Homo sapiens: one gene and its partners. Changing the gene in region 2 together with the main gene of any one other region gives a genetic interaction. Each region holds a gene or a part of one and is shown on either strand. Other genes may lie near its edges. The genes, in order: MAN2A1, SEC24B, TRAPPC11, ARL5A, ARL5B and MAN1A1.

Evidence for each region.
Region 1: changes in SEC24B (region 2) and MAN2A1 together harm fitness more than expected from each alone (negative genetic interaction), as found in Homo sapiens cells (one large-scale study listed by BioGRID).
Region 3: changes in SEC24B (region 2) and TRAPPC11 together harm fitness less than expected from each alone (positive genetic interaction), as found in Homo sapiens cells (one large-scale study listed by BioGRID).
Region 4: changes in SEC24B (region 2) and ARL5A together harm fitness more than expected from each alone (negative genetic interaction), as found in Homo sapiens cells (one large-scale study listed by BioGRID).
Region 5: changes in SEC24B (region 2) and ARL5B together harm fitness more than expected from each alone (negative genetic interaction), as found in Homo sapiens cells (one large-scale study listed by BioGRID).
Region 6: changes in SEC24B (region 2) and MAN1A1 together harm fitness more than expected from each alone (negative genetic interaction), as found in Homo sapiens cells (one large-scale study listed by BioGRID).

Annotation. Positions count from the first base shown.
Region 1 is NC_000005.10:109,783,133-109,787,994, reverse strand, and holds part of MAN2A1 (alpha-mannosidase 2), read right to left. Parts: intron 3,252-4,862; coding exon 3,069-3,251; intron 1-3,068. UniProt on the Homo sapiens protein: Catalyzes the first committed step in the biosynthesis of complex N-glycans. It controls conversion of high mannose to complex N-glycans; the final hydrolytic step in the N-glycan maturation pathway.
Region 2 is NC_000004.12:109,537,672-109,542,324, reverse strand, and holds the end of SEC24B (protein transport protein Sec24B), read right to left. Parts: intron 3,833-4,653; coding exon 3,729-3,832; intron 2,765-3,728; coding exon 2,650-2,764; 3' UTR 1,429-2,649; downstream 1-1,428. UniProt on the Homo sapiens protein: Component of the coat protein complex II (COPII) which promotes the formation of transport vesicles from the endoplasmic reticulum (ER).
Region 3 is NC_000004.12:183,664,846-183,669,707, forward strand, and holds part of TRAPPC11 (trafficking protein particle complex subunit 11), read left to right. Parts: intron 1-1,411; coding exon 1,412-1,581; intron 1,582-2,214; coding exon 2,215-2,285; intron 2,286-3,157; coding exon 3,158-3,272; intron 3,273-4,862. UniProt on the Homo sapiens protein: Involved in endoplasmic reticulum to Golgi apparatus trafficking at a very early stage.
Region 4 is NC_000002.12:151,817,940-151,822,801, reverse strand, and holds part of ARL5A (ADP-ribosylation factor-like protein 5A), read left to right. Parts: intron 1-4,862. UniProt on the Homo sapiens protein: Lacks ADP-ribosylation enhancing activity.
Region 5 is NC_000010.11:18,661,958-18,666,819, reverse strand, and holds part of ARL5B (ADP-ribosylation factor-like protein 5B), read right to left. Parts: intron 246-4,862; coding exon 185-245; intron 1-184.
Region 6 is NC_000006.12:119,339,133-119,343,994, forward strand, and holds part of MAN1A1 (mannosyl-oligosaccharide 1,2-alpha-mannosidase IA), read right to left. Parts: intron 1-4,862. UniProt on the Homo sapiens protein: Involved in the maturation of Asn-linked oligosaccharides. Progressively trim alpha-1,2-linked mannose residues from Man(9)GlcNAc(2) to produce Man(5)GlcNAc(2).

The DNA of each region.
Region 1 (4,862 bases), on a different chromosome or scaffold from region 2:
ATATTTCCTTCAGAGATGTAAGTGATCATGATCAATGTTATTAATTAAATACATTTACATGGCAAATCTATAATTTTAATGCTAAAATCTTATGGATTTGAGTTCATGCCATAATCTAACTAAACTTCCCAACATATTCAAATGTTTTCCTAGACAGCATTAAGTGTTTTCACCATACTAAAACACCATACGAATATGGTTCAGTTATGACAGCAAGACCCTCAATCTAAGTTCCTTTCTATTGTCTACAGGGCTATCTTTATTAGGCAGCCTGAATCTGCAGAGTGAAAGTCATGTTCTCCACCACCTAAAACCAGATGTATTAAAGAGTCCTAATTAAACTGAGTGAAAGCCAGGATCAATGTCTGCATCCTAAAGGCACACATGCAGCCTTCTCATAAGATGAGTACTAAAGACTACAGTATATCACTCCCCAAATGTTTTCTCAGGATGTATAGAGCTGCTTTGCTTAAAACAAAACAAAATGAAACACAGTACATTTGGGAAACATTGGGTAAAACAAAATTCTAAACGTTTCAACATTTCATTAATACAGGATTTTTTTCAGGGCCTCTAATTTCCAAACATACACTTATCCTATTAATACGGAATACGGTTCGGGAAAAATCACTTGGGAATCACAGTTTCTTAGTTTGCTGTTATGGTTGTTGTATTAAGGAGATGTTAGCATGTCTGCCACTATATAGTTTGTCTACATTTTAGGACCCTCACGCTCACCCTGTGTTCCGTTTTCTCCCACCTACCTTAATTACAAGTTAGGAATAATTAGCGGAATTCTAAAACATTTCTCTAAATGACCTCATTACCATTTCTTCTTCCCTTCTACATAAGCCACATTATCTATTAATACTTTTAAGCTGACTATTACAAACATTGTCCCAATCTAATTCATTTTTTTCATGCCATGATTAGAATTAATCTCCAAATATGCCATGATGTATTCTTGCTTTCCAGTTTGTAACTATATACACATTCGATCTATTGTTGACAGCATGCTCTCAGATTCCCCCTACTATGGCAGAGGAGAAAGAAGGGCCTGAATGCCTGATGACACTGCAGAGCTGCCATACCAGAACCAGTTGTCTACAGATTTTTTTCATATGACATAAAAATAAGCAGGACAGGATTTATTCTGTTTCTGGTTGCTATTACTCGCAGCCAAATGCACCCCTAATTCATAAACTTGTTCACAGTGATATTTCTGCCAAATTTGAATGAATAGTAGTCATCAGTCCAAGTTCAAGAGAACACCCAATACTAACTACCTCTTTGTTAATAATTCTCTAACTTATGTTTTGAAATTTCCTCCTTAAAATGTCTGTGCTAATGACTTGGTAATTGTTTATGACTTTTCAATGAACTGTGAAGTACTAACATAGCAAATTTACAAATGCCAAGTACAGTTTGAGACTTACTACCTTTTTTTCTCTAACACGCAATTCTACACGGGGAAGTTTTTATAAGCTAAAAGCAACACAAAACATATGGAGGAACCAATGATAGCTCTTCCAGACAGGTCAAGATACAAAAAATCTTCTGTAGCCAAAGCTCAATGACCTATAAGCAAATCTCTTTCGATATGACAGCCAGAGATAGCAAGTGGGCGGTGTAGGAAAATGACTTTTCTATGTCCTCTTAGGAGCTCTACCCTGGTCTGATTCTAAGCAGTCTCACTTTTAAACTCTCAACAAACCAAGCAGGCCAGGAGCAGGTAAGAAGGAAAAAAGGAGGATCTGACCTTACTTTCAAAAATGGTTTCTGTGGGAGAAATACCATCTTTATCATCTAATGAGGGTTTTCTACTTTAACCCCAGATCAACCTCGACAGGTGGGTGTCATATATATTTGCCATTAAAAAATGGAGAAGATATTCAAGATACTACTTTGAATGCATTTTTTAAGGACTGAAATCAACTAATGAAAACCCAAGAATATCTTTTTCCCCCAATTTCTAGAAAGCCAGTCAAAATATTGTAACTAAAAATTTAATTAACATTTACTACAATTAGTAATATAAGTCGTGAGTCAATTTTTTAACATTGATTTTATGTGTTGTATACGCTTTTCTCATCAAGGAGTAGTACTAAGGATATTCACTTTTAAAATCTATTCTTTAAGAAAATCACAGTATATTTTAAATGACTTTAAAATGTTATCAAAGCACAACACTGCTGATAAACAGTATCAGGAAGAATAGTCTAAACTACAGTAAATAAAATAGTCAAAACTCCTTCCCCAATCTAGGAATGCCCCCTGCACTGATCCTAATGAATGAATGGTCATCCAAAGGCTGGCGTGAGGATAGAGAACTCCCTACTACAAAAGGTAAGATTTCTTCCCCCTTATTAGGAAGCTCTGTTTGCCAAGTCCTCTGTTATCTCAGACCATGCCTATACTCATTGTTTCAAAGTCTTTAATATAGAAATAACTTAGCTTCTACTCCCTTGCCCATCTGAGAGCCCTTCAATGAGTTAAAGATGGCTTTGATACCAACACCCAGGTCATCCTTTCTCATTCCCAATGGCTTATATCATCCACATATGATAAGGTTTATAGGTCTTTTTCCTTCCTGGCTATGCTTCTCAGCTTATTATGTCAATATGCCTCTTAAAAAAAAAAAAAGAAGTATACAAGAACAATTGGATATGAAATAGGATGAGATTAAACTGACATACAATGAAGTAGGAATCTTTATCTCTCTACATTATAACTATGTTTTATTTGATGCCAAGTCCTTGGTCAAGAAGATAACTCCAGTCTCCACACTGTTATTTAGAAGAAAATAGGATCAGCTTTAAACAGTAGTAATAATATTTTACTACCCTATTTGCAGAAATGCATTGCAATAAAAAGTTGGTGCAGCTGGGACTCTGTCAACAGATTTCTTAATATTTGAATATCAGTGCTGTTTTGATACAGTAATACTTATGAGGGATATCATTGTTAATGTGGTTTGATATACACTAACAACTTCACCAAAAGATATAATCTTATTACCCATAATTTTAATGATTTTTTTAAAGATGATTTTTCTATAATTAGATTACCTGGTACCATAATCCACAACCACCCAGTCTTTTGCAGTTCCTGTGATAGCATCATGATGTTGAAACAGTCCCAAATTCCTTCTGGCTTCTGTCAGTGCCGTGTAAAGTGATGATGAGAGAAATTTATTTATCTTGTATTTGTGAGCTTGTCTCAGGGCGAAATAGTAAAGAATTTCAGCAGCCCTAATTGCATAAAAGTCATATTTTTATTTTAAAACAAACACTTTAGCTTATAATCTAAAACTTGTGACATTGATACTTTACAAATTTTTTAATCCATAATTGCAGTACAAGCAATTTATGAAAAAGATATTGGTAATAATAGTTCATATAAAACAACCAATGTATCCCGTATAACACATTTACGTTCTCAATCATCAAAGAATACCATGTCTACACTGGTATCAGGAGTCCTTGTTCTAGATGATCCTGAAAAAGAAGCCAGAACCTGTTGGCAGCAAGACAGGCTTATTTATGAATAGCACAGTGAAAAAAATCTGAAAAATTGGATAAATTTCTCTGTCCTTTCTTCTCTCCAAGAGCAACACACACATAGACCATGAACATCACCAGAATATCATTTACTCTCACATATACACATTAAGAGAAATGAGAAAGAAAGGCATGGTCGGTGAGCGGGACACTCAGAGGAGAGGAGAGGCAGAAAATAATGGCCCAAGAATAGTTCAGGGGAAAGGGTTAGTTTCAGTTTTGAATGATAACATATAACAAATACAGAGAATTTAACAATACAAACTGAAAGATGATAAACAGTATGTCGGCTGGGCATGGTGGCTTATGCCTGTAATCCTAGCATCTTGGGAGACCAAGGCAGGAAAATCACTTGAACCCAGGAGTTCAAGACCAGCCTGGACAACATAGAGAGACTCTATCTTAGCCAGGTGTAGTGACATGCACCTATAGTCCTAACTACTCAGGAGGCTGAGGTGGGAGGATCACTTGAGCCCAAGAGTTTGAGGCCGCAGTGAACTAGGATCACACTACTACACTCCAGCCTGGGCAACAGAGCAAGACTCTGTCTCTTAAAAAAAAAATGTCCTTTGTAGTATATTTTAAAGGAAAAAACCTTCAGTCTAAGAAGAACATGGGGGCTATAATTTCCACCTTTTATGTTTTTTCATCAGAGGATATGGCTCAAGATAAGTTTTTCTTAAAAACTTATTTAAAAGGAGACATGGCTTGATGAAGTAAAAAGTATAAGAAGGTTCTATACACGAAACATGTTTTAAGGACAATGCAGACAGAATCAAGGCAACTTGAAAATGTTATCAAGATTCAGAAAAGAGGAGACACTAGAAATACTTTGTTTGTAAAATGATGCATTTCTCTAAACTGTAGAAATAATCAAAGGAGAGTAAACAATCTCCACTTTTAAATTCTAATCCTTCCAAAAATCATGAAGTAACAATCACTAAGCTTGAATTAACTAAATTGTGTATCTATGTTAACGTATATCCATGGCAAATATTCCTGGTTTTAAAAGGAGTACATATGCATATCCAGACACCCTAAAATGTTAAAAAGAAGATTTGGGAAATATTGTCTTCCCTATACTTTTATATTTTATCCACATTTTGCAAATGAGCAGAGAGATGAAATATTACTATTTTCAGACAAACTTATGTATAAATAAATACATTTGGAAAGTCATAACTATTGTATGGTTTTTTGGTTTGTTTTAATGCAGCAGGATTTTCCAAATATATTACTAGCAGTAACCACAATGCCTTGAATATGTTCAATAAATTAAGATAAACCAATATTCTTTTTGGC
Region 2 (4,653 bases):
ACTATACTTACATAGAATTATATATCACACTTACAAATTATATAAAATGATTTTTGCCTCTCCCCAGTCTTCTACGTTCTCACTTCAGAGTATAAGCTTTGTGGAAGTGAAGATTTTACTTTGTGCCTGGAACAATATCTGGCAAGCATTAAATGCTTACAAATATTTATTGAATGAGAGACAAAATATCCAGACAAAAGATTTTTGTCTTTTATAAAGAAGAATTATACTTTTTATGGTAAAATTGCAGTATTTAGTTGCCCTTAGAGTACTAAAGTTTCTCTCTCTTTTTTTTTGAGTTGAAGTCTGGCTCTTGCCCAGGCTGGAGTGCAGTGGTGCAATCTCGGCTCACTGCAACCTCTGCCTCCCAGGTTCAAGTGATTCTTCTGCCTCAGCCTCCCAAATAGGTGGGACTACAGGAAGGCACCACCATGCCTGGCTTAGTTTCTCTTACTGTTCAGATTCTCTCTTGCTAGAGGCAGCATGGTATAGGGACAAGTATGGTCCTGTGGGTGGGGGGTGGGGTGGGAGTAGGTTGTGGGTAGGGAGAACATTTGGATTTTTACTATTAGCATTGACACTAATTAGTAAGTAATGTCATTTAGGGTGAGTCATTTAACCTCTCATTTCCAGCAGGGAATGTGAGAGTACTTTTATTTTTATCCAAAGAAATGAGATCCATGAAAGCACAAAAACAGTAAAAATAACCCACTACACAGCAAGCCTTTTTCTTTTTTTTTCTTTTTTTTTTTGAGACAGGGCTTCACTCTATCTCCCAGACTGAGTGCGGTGGTGTGGTCAGAGCTCATTGCGACCTTGACCTCCTCGGCTCAGGATGTCCTTCCACCTTAGCCTCCTGAGTAGGTGGGACTACAGGTGCACACAATCCCTGGCTAATTTTTTTGTATTTTTGTAGAGACAGGGTTTCCCCCATGTTGCCCAGGCTGGTCTCGAACCTCTGGGCTCAAGCCATCCGCTTGCTTTGGTCCCTCAAAGTGCTAGGATTATAGGCATGAGCCATCATGCCTGGCAGAGTCTTTTTCCTTCCAAAGTTTGTTGATGGGGACTTTCATAGTGTACAGAATAAAATTATGTCCCATAATCTAATGGATCCTTAAGAGTTTTTTATAGTAAATAAGTTGTTAGTGAATGAGAGGTTTCTTGATCAGAAGAAAATCACTTTCAAAATTCAAGATGGCAATCTTAAAGTCAATTAAATAAATGGGATAGTGATATGTGTTACTAAAATTTTCTTGCTATAAGTGTGCAGGCAAAAATATCTAATGTAAATAAGAAAGACAATTTAAGATTATACTTACTAGTTAAGAATATTTTTGAAAGTAGCACCATTTGTTTTAGAATACAAACAGAATAAGTACTTGGTAATGTCCACAGACTAATGAAAGTGTATTGATTCATATATATTACTTTTTTTTTTTTTTTAAGATGGAGTCTCACTCTGTTGCCCAGGCTGGAGTGCAGTGGCGTGATCTTAGCTCACTGCAACCTCAGCCTCCAGGTTCAAGCGATTCTACTGCTTCAGCCTCCTGAGTAGCTGGGATTACAGGTGCCCGCCAGCACCCCTGGCTAATTTTGGTATTTTTAGCAGAGATGGGGTTTCATCATGTTGGTCAGGCAGGTCATGAACACCTGACCTCAAGTCATCTGCCCACCTTGGCCTCCCAAAGCGCTGGGATTACAGGCGTGAGCCACCGCGCCTGGCCTGATTCATATATATTACTAACTGAAATGCAGTATCACTGCACTTCCCCAATTAGTAAATTCAATACATCCTGTATGTAAAAAAACCCACCAATCCCCACAAAAAACCAATCAAACAAAAACCCCAAAAAATCACCAAACCATACTGTCAAGCGAAATAGTTTTAATTAGTAGGCTGATCATAAATAAATCTACATAAAAGATTTAACAGAATTACAAAGAGTTTTGTGTTCCTTTGTGGACTCAATTCATAATATGCATTAGTCAACCTCATTCTCTAACTGTGACAAAAAGAGTTGTCATCCAACAATGCAGCACAGTTTAAGCAATTCATATGCTATAGTTACATTTTTACATTTTCTTTACAAATGTAACATTTATGTACATTATATATAGATTTTTTTCTATAGTTCATGTACTGAAACTCTATTGTTTTTACAGAGAAAATGTTGAATTCATTTAATGAATAAGAAACATTCCTTGTTAAAAAGTAATTCATATAAACAAATAACACGGTACCAATGCCTTTTGGCATCTCTTGCCAGAGTTCAAGTCCAGAAATGTTATATTAATTATAAGAAAAAAGAATTTATCTAATTTTACATTATGACATATCATTCCACATAGCTACATAAATTTGCCAGCTTGCAATGAACAGAGCACTGTACTGCCATACTACTGGAAATGTGTAGAAACCAATTCAAAATATACTTGGTGAAACAGCATCATCGTTACCATTAATTTGAGTTGAAAAAGATCTGTCAAGTTCTTTCTTCCCCTTTACTTTTTACCAAAGCCTCAGACAGAGTGCTGTGCGTTGCATCTTGTATTAACAAATGCCTTCATTTCAAATTTCTCACGCGCTTCTCTGACAGATTATGCTTTACCTAGGTTATAGATCTTTTTCTTATTCAATTTTATTCTACTTCACTTACAAATCTGCTGCTGAACATGAAGCAAAAATTCATAGTAAGAAAATGCAGCCTCTGTCCGGTCTTCAATCAAATGCTGAAAAAATTCTGCTTTGGCAGGACTCTCATCTCTGGAAGAAAGAAAAGGGCATTTGTCTAAACGTATTTAAAAGCCCTGATTTCACCACTTTGCAATCTAGCTCATAAAATTACACTTGTATCCTGTAAATTTATACAAATAAAATAAAAGTGCATATTTCTAAAAATAGTATATATTTTAAAAATTACTGGGCTGGCAGCTCACACCTGTAATCTCAGCACTTTAAGAGGCTAAGGTGGGAGGACTGCTTGAGCCCAGAAGTTTAAGACCAGCCTGGGCAAGATAGAAAGATCCCCATTGCTTAAAAAAAAAAAAAAAATTTTTAAAATTGGCCGGGCGTGGTGGCTCACGCCTGTAATCCCAGCACTTTGAGAGGCCGAGGTGGGTGGATCACCTGAGGTGAGGAGTTCAAGACCAGCCTGGCCAACATGGTGAAACCCTGTCTCTACTAAAAATACAAAAATTAGCTGGGCGTGGTGGTGGGCGCCTGTAATCCCAGCTACTTGGGAGGCTGAGGCAGGCGAATCGCTTGAATCCAGGACGCAGAGGTTGCAGTGGGCTGAGATCGCACCATCGCACTCCAGCCCGGGTGACAAGAGCGAAACTTTGTCTCAAAAAAAGAAAAAAAAAAAATTAAAAATTAGCCAGGTGTGGAGGGAAGTGCCTGCAGTCCCAGCTACTCGGGAGTCTGAGTTGGGAGGATTACTTGAGCATGGGAGGTCCAGGCTGCAGTGAACTGTGATAGCAGCACCCCTGCACTGCAGCCTGAGTGACAGAGTGAGACTCTATCTCAAATTAAATAAAGAAAGAAAGAAAATTAAAAATTACTAATATATGGAGATGTCAGAAAATGGAATACAGGGGATTTAAATCAAGTAACAACATTTTACCATCAGAATATATTTTGCTACTATTTAAAGTTTGCTTTGAAGACAAGCAATTCCACAGACTACATAGGAAAGACAACTTCATAATTAAGTTACAAAAGTACTTACTTTACTATGTGAAGGATTGGACTTAATGGTCTGCTGTCTCTAAGCCAAGTTATGAAGGATCTGGCTCTTTCTGATGAAAGTGTATCTAGCTCTGGAAGATGTGTCTGGTAAAAGAAATACAATTAGGAAACTTTCCTTTCTCATAGACTTCAGCAGTAATAGAACAAAATCATGATTCCTACCATCACCCCCAACTGCCAGCACTCTATTTCTTAGCCTCAACAGCAGCAACTACACAAATAAAATTTAAACTGTTGAAAAATCTGTTTATATTTTTCTGGATAAGTCAATAAAATATGTGCAATGACAAGTATGTCACTGACATTTTAACTGACTATATTTTTCTTGGTAAGTCAATAAAACATAAACAACGATTAGCATGTCACCAGTATTGTGTGGCGGCTTTATGTTTCTTCTAGAGGAAATGTTCAAATGAAGGGGGATACCATTAAATTCCAAATTCCCTTAGCAATTATATATGATTATATCCTATTCTAAAAACAGCCATTCTGGGAGAATTTCATGTTTTCTTTAATTTAAAGGCAAAGAATTTTAAAGTACAGTGTGGATATGTAAATATATTTTAAAACTATACGCGAGACTATTTTAAAAGGACCTAAAAGTCTATTATTTTTTATATACATAAAAAGGTAAGATTTACTTTCCTTTTTCAAAGCCAACTGTAAATTAAATAGCAAATTAACAGTAAATTAAATAATTCAAAAATGTAGTATATAACAAAATTTAAATAGACAAGTTTGGAATAATTATGTTTGTAATTCCGGTCAATATTTTAAAAACCATTTCCATTTTGATGTGAATTTTTTCAGATGTTTTCTAAATTATTACTAAGTATACAAACACATTTTTGAAAATACAAATGGGGATCATATCATGCATATTATTCACTTCAGGCTGTATTCTT
Region 3 (4,862 bases), about 74 Mb from region 2:
GACATAGTAGTCTCTGGACCAAGTATGTCATCATAACCTGGGGTATTTATTAAAAATGTAGATTGCAGCCCTCCTCTTTGGTTTCTGGGAATATAGGACTTGGTCACCGGCTGATTATTTTTGTGTGTGTTTGAGAACCACACGACAACATTTCATATACTCAGCCCTGGAAACTGAGCTCTCTGAAATTGTGCAAGTAATAGCATCCCAGCCCTGGCCCTCACACGATTATTTTTCTTTTCTTTCTTTTTTTTTTTTTTTTTTTTTGAGACGGAGTCTCGCTCTGTCCCCGAGGCTGGAGTGCTGTGGCGCGATATCGGCTCACTGCAAGCTCCGCCTCCTGGGTTCGTGCCATTCTCCTGCTTCAGCCTCCCGAGTGGCTGGGACTACAGGCGCCCGCCACCACGTCCAGCTAATTTTCTGTATTTTTAGTAGAGACGGGGTTTCACCGTGTTAGCCAGGATGGTCTCGATCTCCTGACCTCGTGATCTGCCCACCTTGGCCTCCCAAAGTGCTGGGATTACAGGCGTGAGCCACCGTGCCAGGCCTACATGATTATTTTTCTTTAGTGTCATGTTTGTGTCAAGAAGGCAGGGAGCCCAGCACAAGCCCTCTTTTCTCTTAATGCTCGAATTCAAGCTGCTTTTCATTTCTCTATTCCCAGCTTTTGGCTGAGTCCCCATGTTATTTTGTGTCAGACTTCCTTATTGACCTCATCTTTCCTTGCTGGAGGTAGACATTGGATCACCATGAAGTGGAGTAGTCTGAGCCAGCACAGCTGATTTGGAAGGAATGTGAGGTTTCAACTGCATCCCTCAGGGCTAACACTCAAATCTACAGCATCCTCTTCCCACTCTGTGGCACTCAGTGCCCAGACTCAAGTGGCTGCTGTGAAGCTTCTGTTTAAGAATTGTTCTCTGCTTTGTACTTCATCTACAAGTGAGGTGAAATGCATCACAGCAATATGTCTTTGAAATAAACAAAGCCTATTGGATTTTAGATAATATTTTATTTGAGCAGTTTTACAAGAACAGAAGCTGGAATGGTGAAGAATATAAGTAGAATTTACCTGGAAATGGGCTACTTTTTTTTTTTTTTTTTTCTTTAGCAAAGTATTTGAGACCCTTGACATCATTAGACATGCATCATCGTTTTATGCATTCAGTTATGGGGCTGATAGAAACTCTTTGGCTTCAGTCATTCTTTAAATGGGAAGTATAGCTTCTCCAGGGTTGAGATTCCACCTTCAACACTTACTAGTTCTTACTGAATCTGTAAGCCTGAGTTTCCTAATCAAAAATGGGAGGTGTGTATATTGAATGAGATCAATGCACATAAAGTGCTTGGCACTCAGTAACAGGTGGTTTCTGCTCCTGTCAGGTAACTTTTCAATTTCTGCCAATGTTTGCAGAGAACTTCATATGAGTGGTACATTCCTAAAGGGATCTTAAAGACTGGCTGGATGAATAAGCATCTGAATCTGGTGCCAGCCCTGGTGGTTGTGTTCTATGAACTGGACTGGGATGAGCCTCAGTGGAAAGAAAAGCAGTCTGAGTGCGCCACCAGAGTGGAAATAGTCAGGTATGATCTTCTGTGTCAGGGCAGCTATGTCAGTTTGCACATGTGTGTTATTCACTAACATTCCTTGAAGGCAATGGAGTACCGTTCAGACTGCAGTGGTCACTTTGCGGATTGACCTCCAGTGAATCTTGTTCACTTCCTCACAGGTAGCATAATTATTGACTGTATATAATGCTGGGTACGTGAAGAAATTTAGAAGACTAATTGGTCTGAATTTCCAAATGTTTTTCTTGTATTATCTTTTTTGGAGACATAGTAATTTACTGTTTAGTCTCTTAAAACGCTTTGCTTTATCACTGTTTAAGTTTCAAATAATTAATTCTTTTGGATGACTACTCTGCAGTGTATCACCATAAAGAAGTAAGTTGCATTATAACTTTTACGTAAAAGTATACATTAATCTTTTGCTTTTAAGGAAGATTTTTAAGATTAGAAGATGTGAGATCATACTTTTAGAATTTAAATCATTGTGACATATATGTGCTTTGTGTGCAGGAAAAGATTTCTTCTGATCTTGGTTTTTTTAGTTGAAATTTATCTTCGGTTGAATGACCAAGGTTGTATTTTATGTGAAGTCATGAATACATTTTTTAAGTTAAAATAATTAATTTTATTCTTGCTTTTTCATTGCAGGCAAAGTTTACAAGGAAGAAACACAAAAGTTGCAGTGGTTCTGATTCAGAAGAAAACCCCTTTGCCCCCAGGTATCAGAAGTCTAATTAATGAATTAATTGTTTTATACCTCCAATTCTTATTAAAGGGAGATAGGGGTTTTTTGGATGTTTAAATCTTTTATGCATTCAGTTATGGGGCTGATAGTATGTTAACTTTAAAAAGCACCAATGATACATGAACAAATGCTTATTGTAAAAAATTAAAGATAGTGAAGAATGCAAATCTCAAGTTCCCCTAGTTCCCCTGTTCCACTTGTCTTCTTATGTAGGGGATATAGGAAGGCATGTTCAATTCACAAAACAATTCGCTTGAATTTTTTTACAAGAGTATAATTTTTTTTGACTTCCAAAGCTTTCCAAAAAAGAATATAATTTACTTATCTAAGATCTATTTGAAGCTGTATTCCTTATATGAAATTTTTTCATTAATTTTCTGTAGGGCAAAGAAAAAGGCTATAGGATTTGTAGTTTTCTCTTGGAAAATGTCTTAGTTTCAGATTCTTATTTCCACTTTCCCAGACTTTTGTAGACCAAAATATATTTTTGTTTCTGTGTTGAAACTTATAGCATCCAAAATGGTTTTGGAGACTTCTTTCATGAATTATTGCTTCCAGTTTTAGTTATGTTTTTTGAAATAGTTATGTGGTATATCTGTTGGCATTACTTGGCCACCTATCCTGGCTCAGTAGAAAATTCCACAGTGTTTTCCTAAAAGGCATATACTGTGTAACCTCTAAGAACCACACAGAGCTCTCAAGGAGCCCAGGAGTCCTGTTGGTGTGATGAAAAGCTGTTTGGGTTTTTATTCCTAATTCTATTTTTTCAGACTTGGGGAAATATTTATTTGGGAAGCTACATTAGTTATTTTATTTCTCATTCATCTTGATGGGGATTATCAACAGGAGAAGATGTCATTGCTTCAGAAAGGGCTGCAGCTTTATGCAATGCATGTGAACTCTCAGGAAAGTCTTTGTTTGTACTGCCGCACACTGACCACCTTGTGGGTTATATTATAAGGTAAGTAGAGGTCTTTTAAAGTTTTGTTTTTTTAGATTATTAAGAATTGAGAAATTGGTAGCTTAGACCCATTTATTTTTTTAAAAAATCATGTTCATGAAAAACATTCATATGATACAGAGGCTATGGGGTAAAAATAAAAGTCTTTTTTGTTAAATTCTTAACCCTCTCCAATTCCCTGAGGTAACCAGTATCAACAGTTGCTCAAGTTTCCTTCCAAAAAAAGTCTTTTTGTATAAGAACAAATATATGTATTTCTTTATAGTATCCATACCACACACACAAACACAAAAACATAAATGTGCTCATATGATACACAGTGATCTTCCACTTAACATTACCTCATTAACATGCTTCCATATGTGCATCTAGGTCAACTTTATTTAAAGAAACAAAGTTTATATGTTTCTCCATTATACTTTCCAGTAATTACCCATGTCCTTGAGTGACATGTATGTCCTTTTTTGTGAGAGTGTCTCCATTCCACTCTGGCCTGTTTTTGCTTCATTCTTGAGCTGTCGATGTATCTATGTCACTAATTTCTTAGGAAGGTGTGAGCCCTATCATATCTTAAATATTTTTATAAAGCCTTTGTGTATAAAGGGCAGATTACCTGGAGACACAACATTACCTCAAAAATCATGTGGTCATTATTCATTGTTTTGTAGCATTTATTGTCACACAGAAGTTTTGTAGTAGTACATTTTATGCTAGGATGTATTTAGATATGAATATTTTCATTGATTTTGACTGTAAAATGGTTTTCCTTTTCATTCTGCATAAGTGTCCTTCGTTAACTCATGAACAGTTTTATTTATTTTTGAGTATTGCTTCTCTTGCATTTGTTTCTTTCTCAGAAGCAAACCTCTGAAAATGATCCGCTGCAGGAGGTTACCTGGCCTTCTCACTGGTATATAAAAGACCAGGCTTCTAAGAAAGAGAAGCATACATTTAGCAGAGAACATGCAGAGGAATAGGATCAAATGAAAAGATGAATTGCAAAGAAACTTAAATGCAATTAGCAAAATAAATCTTTACACTGGAAGCAGTAAACAGTAGAATTCACACCACAGAAAATCAAGTCCATGGTGCCCAGGGTAACATTGAGATAATTGCTTAGAATTCAGAGGAAAAGAATAAATGAGTTTTATTCCTTAAATGCAGACATATGAGCAATAGGGAACAGAGAGAAGAGAGGGGCAGCTGGTAGCACACTCAGGCAGCTTTTCTTTCCACTGAGGCTCATCCCAGCATCACACCTGGCCTCAGCTCTCCAGGCCTGGACAGCTCACCATTGACTCTGCACTTCAGTGCTTTCCTATTCACAGTGCTGTTCCTTGTCAGATGCTTTCATAGTCATGCCCACCTGCCAGCTCTCCTTTTCTGGGCTCTCTCTTACTCAACATTTAAGGCTTCAACGAAGCCTTCATTAGAAAGCTGTTGTCCTCTGTGCTATACCCTGCTGTAATGACTCTTCACTGAGCAGCATTACCTTCCAGAGACTATTTGGCAATGCCTGGAGACTTTTATGATTGCCATAACTGAGGGGGTTGCTGTATTGGCTTCCAGTGGGTAGAGGCCAGGGATGTT
Region 4 (4,862 bases), on a different chromosome or scaffold from region 2:
GTTCCATCAAAGCATTAGAACAGTGCAGTTGTTGTGGCTTATTTGAGTAAATACAGGAATGCTGTGACATAGTCTAAAAGAAAAATCATACTAAGCAGTAAACTTCTGATGATTCTTGTGCATCAAAGAGTTGGAATGGCTGAAAGTTTTATTGCATTTGTCCACAATAACATTCTTGTAGTAGGCATATTGGGATTCTATGAAGTCTTTATTTCGAAGTGCATTATAGCACTTTTTGGCTACAAATTTACATTTTGTATAGATGCTTTTCCATCTTGCTAATGAAAGGAACAGGCTGTGGTGGTGAGAGTAAGGATGTTCAGAGGAAATTGATCTACTATTAAAAACTTTGTGACTAATCTGACCCTATTATTGAGATGACACGTTTGTCTTTGAGCCCATTGCACAGTTTGGTCTTAATTTTATAGTTCTCATTGTGACCCACATGCTATGTCTTAGATTTAGGAAGCTATTAAAAATGGTCATTGGTGGCCGGGACGCAGTGGCTCATGCCTGTAATCCCAGCACTTTGGGAGGCCAAGGCAGATGGATCACCTGAGGTCAGGAGTTCAAGACCAGCTTGGCCAACATGGCAAAACCCCTATCTCTACTAAAAATACAAAAATTAGGCCAGGCACAGTAAACTTCTGATGATTCACGTGCAGGTGGTTCACACCTGTAATCCCAGCACTTTGGCAGGCCGAGGCAGGTGGATCATGAGGTCAGGAGTTCAAGACCAGCCTGGCCAATATGGTGAAATCCTGTCTCTACTAAAAATACAAAAATTAGCTGGGCGTGGTGGTGCGCACCTGTAGTTCCAGCTACTCGGGAGGCTGAGGCAGGAGAATCCCTTGAACCTGGGAGGCAGAGGTTGCAGTGAGCCGAGATCATGCCATTGCACTCCAGCCTGGGCGACAGGGCGAGACTCCATCTCTAAATAAATAAATATAAATAAATTAAAAAATTAGCTGGGCATACGGCGAGACTCCGTCTCAAAAAAAAAAAAAAAAAAGAAAAAAAAAAAAAGAAAGCCGGGCATGGTAGTGCCTGCCTGTAGTCCCAGCTGCTTGAGAGGCTGAGGCAGGAGGAGAATCGTTTGAACCTGGGAGGTAGAGGTTTCATTGAGCCAAGCTCACACCACTGCACTCTAGCCTGGGCAACAGCGAGACTGCGTCTCAAAAAAGTCATTGGTGCTTTATTGTGAAAATACAAAAAAACTCAAATAGAGCTACGTCTTGGGAGGAAGCAACTAGAACTTTGTAATGAATGTAGTTTGTAGGTGTTTGGGTGGAGTAAGGAGGTAAAGATCCTCTGGATCATGGATTCTTCATTGGAATGGCCCTCCAGAGATCTCAGACCACATGACTACATGTGGTTTTTTTGGATATTTTCCAGGTTCTGCTTATGTTTGATTGGAGTTTCTTTCCTCCTTTTTGTTTTTGAAGTATTTTAACCATTTGGTAAGAATATGATATGTTCAAATATATTAGTTTGGTTTCCCTTGATTGACTTTAGAAATCTGCTTAGGTCTTAAGAGTTTGGGGGCATGGTTGCATATTTATGCATTTGTAAGTATATAGGAATTCATTGAATTTGTAAAATAGGTAGGCAGAAGAGTAAGATTGTAGTGTGGAGAATGGCATGAGCAAAGTTAAATGATTGGAAAGTTTATGACATGTTCTAGAGACTGAGTAGAGCAGCTTTTCTAAGTTTTAGTACGTAGGTCAAGAAGAGTTAGGGGAAGATTTGGGCTAAGGCTTAGCTAGCTTTGTCACACTCATCCTTTTTCATCATGTTTATCTAATGATCTTACCTGGATTTAGTTATTCACTTTCAGGTGCAGACAGAAGGTTATGGGTCCTCCAAAGCTTCAGACCTTGGCTAATTTCTCTCCTCTTGTTCATAGCCATTTTACCTTTCATCTTTCCTTCTACCCTAACAATAACCTAACCTTTCACCTGCTAGGACTTCCGGACATTCTTAACCTTGTAGGGCAGGACTGGATTTCTTTCCCGGCCCAAATTCCATGGCTAGCCACTTCATTTCTTTCTTATCACTGTCTCCGACACGCTTTTCTCTATTAACATTTTCCACCATGCCAGACATATGGATTCTGTTTTTTTTTTTTTTTTTTTTTTTTTGGAGACAGGATCTCACTCTGTCGCCCAGGCTGGAGTGCAGTGACACAATCTTGGCTCACTGCAACCTCTGACTCCCAGGTTCAACTGATTCTCATGCCTCAGCCTCCCAAGTAGCTGGGACCACAAGTGTGTGCCACCACACCCAGCTAATTTTTGAATTTTTAGTAGAGACGGGGTTTCGCCATGTTGGCCAAGCTGGTTTTGGACTCCTGACCTCAAGTGATCCACCCGCCTCAGCCCCCCAAAGTGCTGGGATTACAGGCGTGAGCCACTGTGCCTGGCCCAGACATGTGGATTCCTACCCTGTATCATCTACTATACCTTCTCTCTCCAGTGTGCCTTCTTTATTTCTAGGCACTGTTAAAGAAAGATTTAAAGCAGTTTAAATCCTAATCCACCACAGGATAGGTTATCTAATTTCAGCTTATTGATACTCTAGTTCATTCCATACAGTGGTTGTAAAAGATGATGCATCTTGAAACTGTTAACCTTTTCCTTTCCTCAGTAGGCAACTAAGTTGTGTTATAAGATGAAATCCTGGAATGAGTAATTTCTGCCATCTGCTTTATCTTAGACTTGTCTGTGTGTTATAGCACATGGTTTTGTTCACAGCAGTTTTACCTTGGTGATCATGTTCAGCTAGTGGCCAGGTATGATAAAGAATTTTACCTCTGCCTCCCAGGTTCAAGCAATTCGTCTACCTTAGCCTCCCAAGTAGCTGGGACTATAGGCTCACGCCACCATGCCAGGCTAATTTTTTTGTATTTTTAGTAGAGATGGGGTTTCACCATCTTGGCCAGGCTGGTCTTGAACTCCTGACTTTGTGATCCACCTGCCTCGGCCTCCCAAAGTGCTGGGATTACAGGTGTGAGCCACCATGCCTGGCCTAAGAGTCTTTTTTTTTTTTTCAGTAGTTTTTGCCTAGCTAGTTTTTCCTAACAGAACTGTTAGAAAAGCACCAGGTTTGGAATTAGGACATAGTAACCAAGTCCTAAGGACATGGCTGAAGTAAGGAGACCACTTAAAAAAATACCTGTACTAAAGCCAGATGAGGTTTTACTTTAAAGCTATCATTTTAGGAGGCTATATAGTTTTTCCACTGGTATGTCCTACTATTATTCAATCTATTCTTTGAAACTCAGAAGTTCTTTGGAAACAAATTTTTAAATAATTCTTCATATTTCACTTAACAAAAAAAAAATGGCACTCATTTTAGATACCTTTTACCTTATGACCAAGATGATACGAGGTGGCTCATCTCCCACTTTAAAGTCAAGTTCATCTTCAGAGTTTAAAAGATTTGCCACCATTAGGTGGCAATATTCAAAATGGTGTACCTCAGGCTCTGAAAGCAATTATAAAAGAACCGTAGCAAACTATTTTGAAAAAATGGTAACATGGTTGGAATAAGTGTTTAACCTCCTTAGCTGATTACGGCCCTTGTAAGAAACTGAGAGAGTACTGTTTTTTACTTCGTTGTCTCTGTGTACATTATTTATACATATACACATTTTTTAGTCATTCTTTATTGTTATATATTATAGATTCTTGCCTATGTTTTTGTTTCCTTTTGGACTTTTCCTGCTAATTTTGTACTGTTTTTAGGGTCAAAGTAGTTGTATTTTCTCTGGTATTTCATTGGTCAGAGTAATTGTATTTTCTTCCCAAGTATTGAGAAGCCCATCTAAATTCTGCCCCGTAGCTAATACATTGGGGGAATGGGGTGGAGGCGGGGGCGGGATATATTCCCGTAACTTAAAAATAAGCTGACATTTTGAGAATGCTGTGATTAAAAATCAGTATTCTCCTGGGAAGCTAAAAACTCTTATCCAAGTCAGAGATCAGAGTATAGCCTGATAATGAATTCTAGTTGTGTTAAAAATGTTTATGAGTGCGTGTATTAATAAAACTGAAGAGGAGTTACATCATCAAAAAAGGAATGCTTAATTTTGGGACATAGAAAAATGGAGTTAGGCAGAATTGCCATGCTATTTAAAAACTTTCTAGGTGCAAAGGTACCTTGTCCCAAGGACTCGATTACCTGGCCCTCATGCAGGCATGGCCTTGCTCTAAAGATGAATTCAGACCAGGTACAGTGGCTTGCACCTGTAATCCTAGCACTTTTTGAGGCTGAGGCGGGAGGATTGCTTGAGCCCAGGAGTTTGAGACCGGCCTGGGAAACACAGGGACATCCCATCTCTACAAAAGAAACAAAATATCCAGGCGTGGTGGTGCACACCTGTGGTCTCAGCTACTCAGGAGGGTGAGGTGGGTGGATCACTTGAGCCTGGGAGGTTGAGGCAACAGTGAGCCGTGATTGTGATACTGCAATCCAGCCTGGGCAGCAAGAGTGAGACCCTGTCTCAAAAAAAAAGAAAGGATTCACATCAGTCATTGCAGCCTGTAACACTCCTTGTGGTTGGGATTCCATGCTCCCCAAGTAATCATCTGATTTTAATTCAGCCATCATGTAACATATCCTCAGGGATAGACTTGTTACTTGTCATTCATTTTTCAACATTTGATCTTATTGTATGTTACTCATTTGCTGTTCTTATTTATGTCTTAGTCATTTCCATGAATTGCTCTCTCTGAGTCCTGTCTATTCTGGGATAGTAGCAGAATTGTTTGTGGATCTGGGAGACTAAAGACCACAGACGGGGTTTCGCTCTTGTTGCCCAGGCTGGAGTGTAATGGCATGATCTTGGCTCACTGCAACTC
Region 5 (4,862 bases), on a different chromosome or scaffold from region 2:
AGGGTTTAGCAAATGTTTATTTCACTCACTTTTCTATAGATTGTGTTCGGTAAAATTAAAAAAACAAAAAACAAAAAACATATATTTAAGTTTTTCCGTCATTATTATAATGCATCTCTTATTAATTGTAAACACATTAGTTTCAATAACTAGTGAAAACTGTTTAATAAACACCCATACTTACAATTGGTAAAGAATGGTGGTTTTCCCTGCATTATCCAGTCCCACTATAATTACTTTGTGTTCTACAAAAAGAAAGCAAATCATAAACATTTAACACTACTGCATTACTGCAATTACATGCTTTCAACAATGATTATTAGTTAGCTCATTAATGAGAATCATTCACTGAATATCTATCACTAGACTTAAAATGCAGAAAGAAATGTTATGATGTTAAGGCTACCTAGGTTAAGTAACAAAATCAATTATCATTGATTCTCTGTCTAGTTCTCATGTAAAAGAATGTGGGAGATGGGTAGGCAGGAAACACCAGCAAAGTTGGTCACTTATATTGCATCTAGGGGAGAGGAGACCCAAATATTAATCTAGGCAAAAATTATAACCTAAATGTAAGTTTTTTAAAAAGCCTGTTTTACACACCTTTTTAGCTCTGTACCAATCAAGTTAGCTTTTTATCAAAATGTTTTCATATCTGTAAGTTTCCCCACCTATGTATACCAGGATCTGTTTCTTCCTCTCACTTAAAAATCCCATGTAAGCTTAAAATTGAAACGTTTCATGTGTCACAAAGACAAACATATACTCTCAAGTTTTTACACAATTACTCATTGTTTAACATTTTTTCAACCGGCTTCTACAGTTCTTTTGAGCAGATTCTGTTTCTGCTCTTTGTACAATGAAAATCTCTTCAGTTCTTTCCTCCTTTGGGTGCCATGCACTAAATATTCACCTCTTTTAATAAGTAGTTGCTAAAGCTCATCTAATTATTCCGTTAAGTGGTATATATTCTGCAATGTCCTTTGAATACAGAAAACAACCCAGATACCATCTTTCCTAGATTTTCACTTATGCCAAGTATACTAAAGATCCCCTTCTCCAAGGCAGAAGAATGCTTAAAAAGTTACAAGTTAACATCAACAGGGTAAGTAGGGAAGTTTCCACAGAATCACAACACAGTTGATTTGTAGGCAACGATTGGGCACATCTCATATCAGAATCCCGCTCTTCTTGATGACCTCTGGTGAATGTCAACATTCTGGTCATATAATCAACTATCAGCTCATATTCCTACTCTGAAGTTCTAAACTTCATCAGCCAAAAAAAGAGGGACCAAGAAAATTTAAGTTCTTGAGATGTGCAGGTCTTCCAATGACCTACACACTCTAGATACAGCCTATTACAGTGCAGGATAAACAGACACGGTCCTCTGGAAGGGCTATTTTCACTATGGTAGAAGCTGCTTTGTAAAACAAAACAAAACTTGCCTGCTTAGTATAACTCACTATAATTCTCCTTATTTATTTGAGACAGGGTCTTGCTTTGTTGCCCAGGCTGGAGTGCAGGGGCATGATCACTGCAGCCTCGACCTCCCAGGCTCAAGTGATCCTCCTACCTGAACCTCCTGAATAGCTGGGACCACAGGTGCACACCACCAAGCTTGGCTACATGTCCTCTAATGAAGCTAATCTTTAAGTATTACCCTGTTTGTTATCCCTTAAAGTACAAGAACCTTTATCAGTGAGGAACAAACAGACTGCCTGGCACTAAGCATTCTAAATTTTGGTGACAGCTAGAAGCTCCACCTACCAAGCATCTACAGAAAACAACATGCCTGCAGTGGTGAGAAGGAAGCCACTAGTTTAAAGATAAGCAAAACTTGAAGGCAGATAATCCTGTTGGGAGAAAGGAATGGAAGGACAGTACCAGATGGCTCCTTCTTGAAGCAACTCAAATGAAGACCCAGGTCATTTGCAAACAATCCTGCTCCTTGCTTCACTTTTGCACTATGATGCTTCACATAATACTGAAGGCCTGTGATGGTAAAACTCACCAATAATGCACCATTTTGAAAGGTAGGTCCCTAACATGAGGAAATGTTAGGTTAAGACACTACTGTTAGGCCAGGCGTGGTGCCTTACGCCTGTAATCTTAGCACTTTGGGAGGCCGAGGTGGGAGGATCACGAGGTCAGGAGATCAAGACCATCCTGGCTAACACGGTGAAACCCTGTCTCTACAAAAAATACAAAAAAATTAGCCGGGCATGGTGGCGGGTGCCTGTAGTCCCAGCTACTTGGGAGGTTGAAGCAGAAGAATGGCATGAACCCGGAAGACGGAGCTTGCGGTGAGCCGAGATCGGGTCACTGTGCTCCAGCCTGGGCAACAGAGCGAGACTCCATCTCAAAAAAAAAAAAAAAAAAAAAAAAAAGACACTACTGTTACTATCAGTTACAGTAAATCAGAATGTTTTAGGCCAGGTGCAATGACTCACACCTGTAATTCCAACACTTTGGGAGGCCAAGGAGAAGTGATCAGTTAAATCTAGGAGTTTGAGACCAAACTGGGCAATACAGTAATATCCCATCTCTTAAGAAAAAAGTTAGCCAGGTCAGGCATGGTGGCTCACACCTGTAATCCCAGCACTTCAGTAGGCTGAGGTGGGCAGACCACAAGGTCAGGAGTTCAAGACCAACCTGGCTAATTTGGTGAAACTCCGTCTCTACTAAAAATACAAAACTTAGCCGGGCATGGTGGCAGGTGCCTATAGTCCTAGTTACTTGGGAGGCTGAGGCAGGAGAATCACTTGAACCTGGGAGGCAGAGGTGGCAGTGAGCTGAGATTGCACCACTGCACTCCAGCCTGGTGACAGAGCAACACTCCGTCTCAAACAAAACAAAACAAAACAAAAACAAAGAATGGTCTGGAAGACAGGATGCAGATAGATGATAAGTTTAAGTTTAGTGTGTTTGAAACCTGCTTACAGTCCAGAGTTAAGAGCAGAATAAGCTGGGGCCGGGCGCAGTAGCTCACACCTGTAATCCCAGCACTTTGGGAGGCCGAGGTGGGAGGATCACAAGGTCAGGAGATCGAGACCATCCTAGCTAACATGGTGAAACCCCGTCTCTACTAAAAATACAGAAAATCAGCCGGGCGTGGTGGCAGACACCTGTAGTCCCAGCTACTTGGGAGGCTGAGGCAGGAGAATGGCATGAACCCGGGAGGCAGAGCTTGCAGTGAGCCGAGATAACGCCACTGCACTCCAGCCTGGGCGACAGAGAGAGACTCCATCTCAAAAAAAAAAAAAAAAAAAAGAGCAGAATAAGCTAAAGAGAGAAATGTGAGCCACAAGATCTGAGATCTGAGCAGTCAGAAGTAAAGGACAATAATCATACGCAATTGGCAACCAGTGTTCAAAATGATAACATGAAATTCATGGATTGGAAAGAAATGATTAAATTATGAAATTAAGATGTTACTGTTACATGGTTCTGAAAAAGAACTACAATTAAAACTGTATTTCATTTGTTCTTAATTCTGGGTAACACTAGAAATAACTGGCCAGGTGCAGTGGCTCACGCCTGTAATCCCAGCACTTTGGGAGGCGAGTAGATCACCTGAGGTCAGGAGTTCGAGGCCAGCCTAGCCAACATGGTAAAATCCATCTCTACTACAAATACGAAAATTAGCCAGGCATGGTGGCAGGTGCTTGTAATCCCATCTACTCCAGAGGGTGGGGCAGGAGAATTGCTTGAACTTGGGAGGCAAAGGTGGCAGTGAGCTGAGATCACAGGACTACACTCCAGCCTGGGTGACAGAAAATATAACAATAATAAATAAAATTTAAAGACATCACTGGGCCAGGCATAGTGGTTCACGTCTGTAATCCTAGCACTTTGGGAGGCCAAGGCGGGCGGATTACCTGAGGTCAGGAGTTCAAAACCAGCCTGACCAACATGGTGAAACCCCACCTCTACTAAAAATACAAAAATTAGCCGGAGTGGTGGTGTGCGCCTGTAATCCCAACTACTCAGGAGGCTGAGGCAGGAGAATTGCTTGAACCCAGGAGATGGAGGTTGCAGTGGACCGAGATCGCACCACTGCACTCCAGCCTGGGTGACAGAGTGAGACTCCATCTCATTAAAAAAAAAAAACAAACAAACAACAAAAAAAGAAATAACTGATGACAGGTTTCCACAATCATAACACTGAGAGAAAAAGACTATGCCTACAAAAGTTCAAAAGAAATTTAAAAAACAATGCAAAACTTTAGAGGTGAGCTATCAAACACACATAACACATATGTATTTCACAGAACTACATTAACATATAAAATGTTTGCAGAGATAATCAGAATTCCAAATTATTTCCTTGAATAATAACTGTCGAAGTAAACAGGCTTCCAGTTCAAACAATACAAAATTGCAGGAATTAACTTTTACATTGCTTTACTTAGACAACACACGCTTTAGTATACTTATTCACAGAAAGGTATCTAATTTATAAGACGCATGAGACTCTAAAATGCTACAGGAAAAAAAAGGATGAGAATGTGGAAATACTGGAAGAAAGACACGGGAAAGGAGCACATAAAGTAAGATCAGTAGTTCTTAACACTGGCTGCACATTCGATTTACCTTGGCAGTGATGCCCAGGCCTCTTCACCCCAATCTAATTTAGTTGGTGTGAGGTGGCGCTTTGGGCCTGTTATTCTAATATATCTAATTCCACTGGAATAGATAAATATAGTTACAAAAATGGAAAATGCTGAGATTGGTAGTTAATTTTGTTGATGCAGAAAACAAAAATATAGGCTAAGATACATCTGTGGATTAAACCCTTCAGTGAGTCCCATTCCTTGCTCTAGAGAGTTTAATGTCTTAGTCAACACTGGAGGCCCTCT
Region 6 (4,862 bases), on a different chromosome or scaffold from region 2:
CATCACTTATGAAATTCACAAAGAATCAACAGACTCCATTCATTATATGACACATGGGAGTATAAATGGTTTCTGGAAAGTTATCCCTCAAAATGTACTATCTGTTGGCCAATTTATTTCCCCTCTTAAGAATTTAAGAGAAAATCCCACTTACCAGGGTGTGTGCAATAAAAAGTGAGACACAAATTTACTGGACAAAGCTGTCTGTCTCAGCATTTTTAATAAAAACAAAAAAGTGGAAATAATCTAAATGTTCAGGTCCAAGGGACTGGTTAAATAAAGTATCATGTTTTGACATGGATATACTGTGCCAACATAAAATGACACTTGCAAAGAAAATGAAAAACAAAAAGTATATATAGTGTGGTTATAACCCGGCGTCGGGGGGTGGGAACGAACTTACATATTGGGGTTAGGGAGGAGCATCATTGACACTACTTAGTGACTGATAAAACTATGAAGGATTTGTTTTTTTTTTTCTACTCTAGTGTGCTTTCAAATTTTTCTTTCCCAAGCAGACATGAGTTTATAAAGCGAAATAAGACAATGGAAGATACTTGCTTCAACAAACCTATTCTATCCTTTGATAAGACAAATCTCAAAGTATAATATTAATAATTCTGCTGAGCAACTTTATCCATCTATTTCTAAAGCAAGCCTTTAAGAATCAATAAATGGACACGCATGGTGGCTCATGCCTATAATCCCAGCACTTTGGGAGGCCAAGGTGGGTGGATCACTTGAGATCAGGAATTTGAGACTAGCCTGGCCAATGTGGGGAAACCTTGCCTCTACCAAAAATACAAAAATTAGCCAAGCATGGTGGCAGGTGTCTGTAATCCCAGCTACTCAGGAGGCTGAGGCAGGAGAATCGCCTGAACCTAGGAGGCGGAGGTTGCAGCAAGACAAGATTGCACCACTGCACTCCAGCCTTGGCAACAGAGCAAGACTCCATCTCAAAAACAAAAACAAAACAAAAACAGTAAAAAGGAAACACTGGTGGTGAATTTCTGGCAGCTGGGAATGAGATTTTGAGACTGGGTAGATACCCCTGAGCTTCCCTAATCATTCCACAGGTCTGTTCTCTTGTCTTATGCCCCGACAGAGAGAGATACAGTGAGGAAACACACTCCCCTTTTAGTACATAGCTCCAGCATGTATTCCCGTGAAAGAGGAACTAGGGACAGACAATCATGACCTAAACATCAGCTCAGGAAGCTGGACATGCCACCCCCAGTGTAGGCTAGGATCCCTGGCCTCCTGTCCTATTTCTGAGATCATCCTGTCACTTAGAAGAATTGAGTGTTCTGAAGGGACCTTGAGAAGACCATTTAATGAGGAAGGATTTGGCAGAAATGGAGACACTAGCAATAGCTTGTAGTCTATGGATGGCTTGAGTTCACGTCTTGGCCATAGTCATTCACAGGCCTTCGGACACCAATTACTGCCACCCCCTTTCTCATAAACTCCTAGCACAGACAAACAGGCACCAGCAACAAAGGTTGTTTCAGAGGGTAGCAATGCTGTGTTATTAAACCACCCTTTCAGAACTTGGTGTCCTTCATCAGGTTTTTATCCCCTCATCTCCATGCCCTCTCTCATACTAAGTTGCTAATACTAAACACTCCCACACAAGACAGGACGATCTAATTAGTGACCCACATAAAAACATGAACAATGCAAATGAAAAGTTAATATAATATGTTCTGAGTGTCACTTGAATGAACGATGTAGAGCAAGAGTGATGAGAAAGCAGCAGAGCAAATCAGGAACTGGGCTTTTGATAAACTTAAGAGCCAGGGAGATGAGCAGACTGAGAAACACGAGCGAGAAGGAGTCATTCTAGTCACAAAAGTCAAGTAAACAGGAAGGATACGTGTACTTTTCAATTTTATTATCTCTGTTCTGGATTATCTGCAGGACTGCTCAGCTCTAAAGTACCTAAAGCAACTACCAGAGTATTCATGACAGAAATGAGGGCTGTGACTTTTAAATGCTCTTAAGCCTTAATCTCATTTGGTTTTTTTTCAAGTACCTAATGATCACAGAAGTCTTTATCAAAACTCAGTGGGGGCGGGGCACTGCTGCCACATTCTCCGGAGCAAAGGAATTAGCCAGTATTGCTTTCTTAGGCAATCCCCTACCCAGCAAAGACGTCCCACCTCCCTCTAGGATGGTCTCAGTGGGGCTTCTGGCAGTTGGCCTGCCATTTAGGGCTGAGGAGGAGGGAGGGCCTGGTCAGCCAGTCACCAAAGCACACGTTCTCATTAGAGTCAAGATTATCCCAGGTGGAGTGGGGCCTGGTTCTCAGTACTTCTCAACACCTAAGAAGCAATTCTCAGCTATTGTTTGTACACTGGGGGAATCTCAGGAAGTCACAGCTCACAGGCCTTATTTCTCATGTGTAAAATGAGTAGTGGGTCTGGAATCCTAATAAATCTAAATTCAATGTGAAGGTCTCAAAAAGACCAAACTCTCTGAGCTACAAAATAAAACTGATTTATGCTAACTTTGACTACTAAGTGATGGACTGAGCTCTGATTATAGAATTTATCATAATTATATAATTTTTGCCAAGCCTAAAATAATAATTCTCACTTCTTAAAAACATTCCTCCAAGATGAAACAGATTGAAATTCACTTTACTCGATCTCTCTCTCTATTTAGAAGAATAACTTCAATACTTAAGATAGATAACTCAGCCAAGGCATGGTGGCTCACACCTGTAATCCCAACACTTTGGGGTGCCGAGGTGGGAGGACTGCTTCAGCTCAGGACTTTGAAACCAGCCCGGGAAATATAGTGAGACCCGATCTGCATTGTGTAAATAAAAAAATTATTTATTAGAAAAAAGAGAAATTAAGATAACTCGACTGTGACTACTCTGAAAGATGGTATCTGCGGGAATAGGCATATTTGACTATGAGAAAGAGACAAATTAATTCTTTAACATATATTCTGAAGAAGCTGAAGATGTATATGCAGTAAGTATATCATTCTAAAGATACTTAAGTTTTTTTGGAATTTGGTAAAAATCAAAGAAAATCAGAGTTGACCGTAGCAAAATAAAATTATAGGTATGGAAGATCTTTTTGATGAACTGGAAATGTATCCCTTTAAGCACTAAAACTCAATTTTAACTATTTTTGATACCCTTTTGAAACTTCATTATCCACTTTCCTGAGTTATTAAACAGCATATGGATCAATGCAATCTTGGCTTGATGGCTTTAGGTGGTGACCAGTAACAGCAATAATCACAAGCAGCATTTGTTGTGTGCCCACTTCATGTCTGATACCATTCTAAGTGCTTTACTATCACATTTAAGCCTCAGGATCCAACAAAGTGGGTACTATTAACCTCATTTTACAAATGAGGAAACTAAAGTTCTGAGAGATTAAGTAATTTGCAGACGGTCACAAAGCAAGAGAATGGTAGAGGCCAGATTCAGACCCACGTTATCTGAGTCCAGATCCACCCTTCTAACCACTACATTGCTTCAAATGGATGGATCAGAGACAGGTAAGTGCATCCCAAAAGAGAATCGCCAGAACCTACTTGGGTGGAGAGAATTGCCCATAGATTGGTGTGATTTTTACATGTCTACTTTTAAAACAATCATCCTTTAGGTTAGCTGTCATTCTTCTATTATCCATGGTGCAATATCAGAAGAGCACACACATTTATAATTTTAAAGCAGCCCTTCTAGTCATCACATGTCCCTTCTCTGGGTGATCCCCTTTCACCCTTTGTATATACAGTAACTCACTCTCTTCTTCTCTCCCTTCCTTCTTCTTCCCCACTTTTCCTCATAAAGAATGTTTAACTGAATGATTACAAATGCCTGTGCTTCTTGGAGAGATCTTTATAAAGAAAACAAGATGTCCTATCAAGCTTTCCCCGGGTGTCTTTACAAAGAAGAAGATTTCTAAACCATGCCACTGGTAAGATTTTTAAAAATTACTATAATTGACTTAAAAACTACTTTGATCCATCGTTGGCTGAAAAAAAAAAAAAGAAAAACCACCAACTTAGTATAAGGTCAAATTTATAATAATGCAGAATTGTATGTTTTCTGTACTCTCTATTAGGGTCTGCAAATAGTAAGCACGGATAATTTATACAATTCTTTGGGGTTTTATTTAGGAGACAAACCATGTGGGAGACAATGCGCAACACTCACAGAAGACTGGGGCTTCCCTCTGCAACTCAACTCTGCCACTAGCTGGTGATGTGATTTCCAGAATGATCTTTGTGTCTTGGTTGCCTCTACTGTAAAATGAATGAGCTACCTCTCAGATCTCATTCAGATGCAATACCTTACGACTCGGAGCATACACTTAGTTTTAAAATCTGAGATTTAAAGTTATCATGGCATAATTTGCAGAGTTTGTGTAAAGGGCCTTTTAACAGATTGAGAGGTTGGGGGTGGGGATAAGATATAGTTCAATCACTGAACACCAAGCAAGGAACTAGGCTAAGAATACTGAGGGAAAAGTCAAGACTTATTTCCTCAAAGAGGGAATCTCTTCCCTAAACTACCAAACAGGTATCTTGTTTATTATTTTCGTCTACTTGGCGGGGAGGTTGTTTTGCCACTCGTTTCACAGTATCTCTGGAGCCCACAGTGGCTGTTCCTATTTTGACTAATCAAACCCTTCTTTGACCAACATACACAAGATTATAAAGAAAGAAATTTAAAAGACCACAGGTGCTTGACTGGGTTAGGAGGTATAACCAGGTTCCAGTGCAATTCTGATCTACCCTGTGTATTCAGCCCTCATCCCTCACACGGATCTGCAGGCATTCCTCCCCTCTGACCTTCGGACACATGCTTAAAATTCTCTTCAATGAAAAATTTG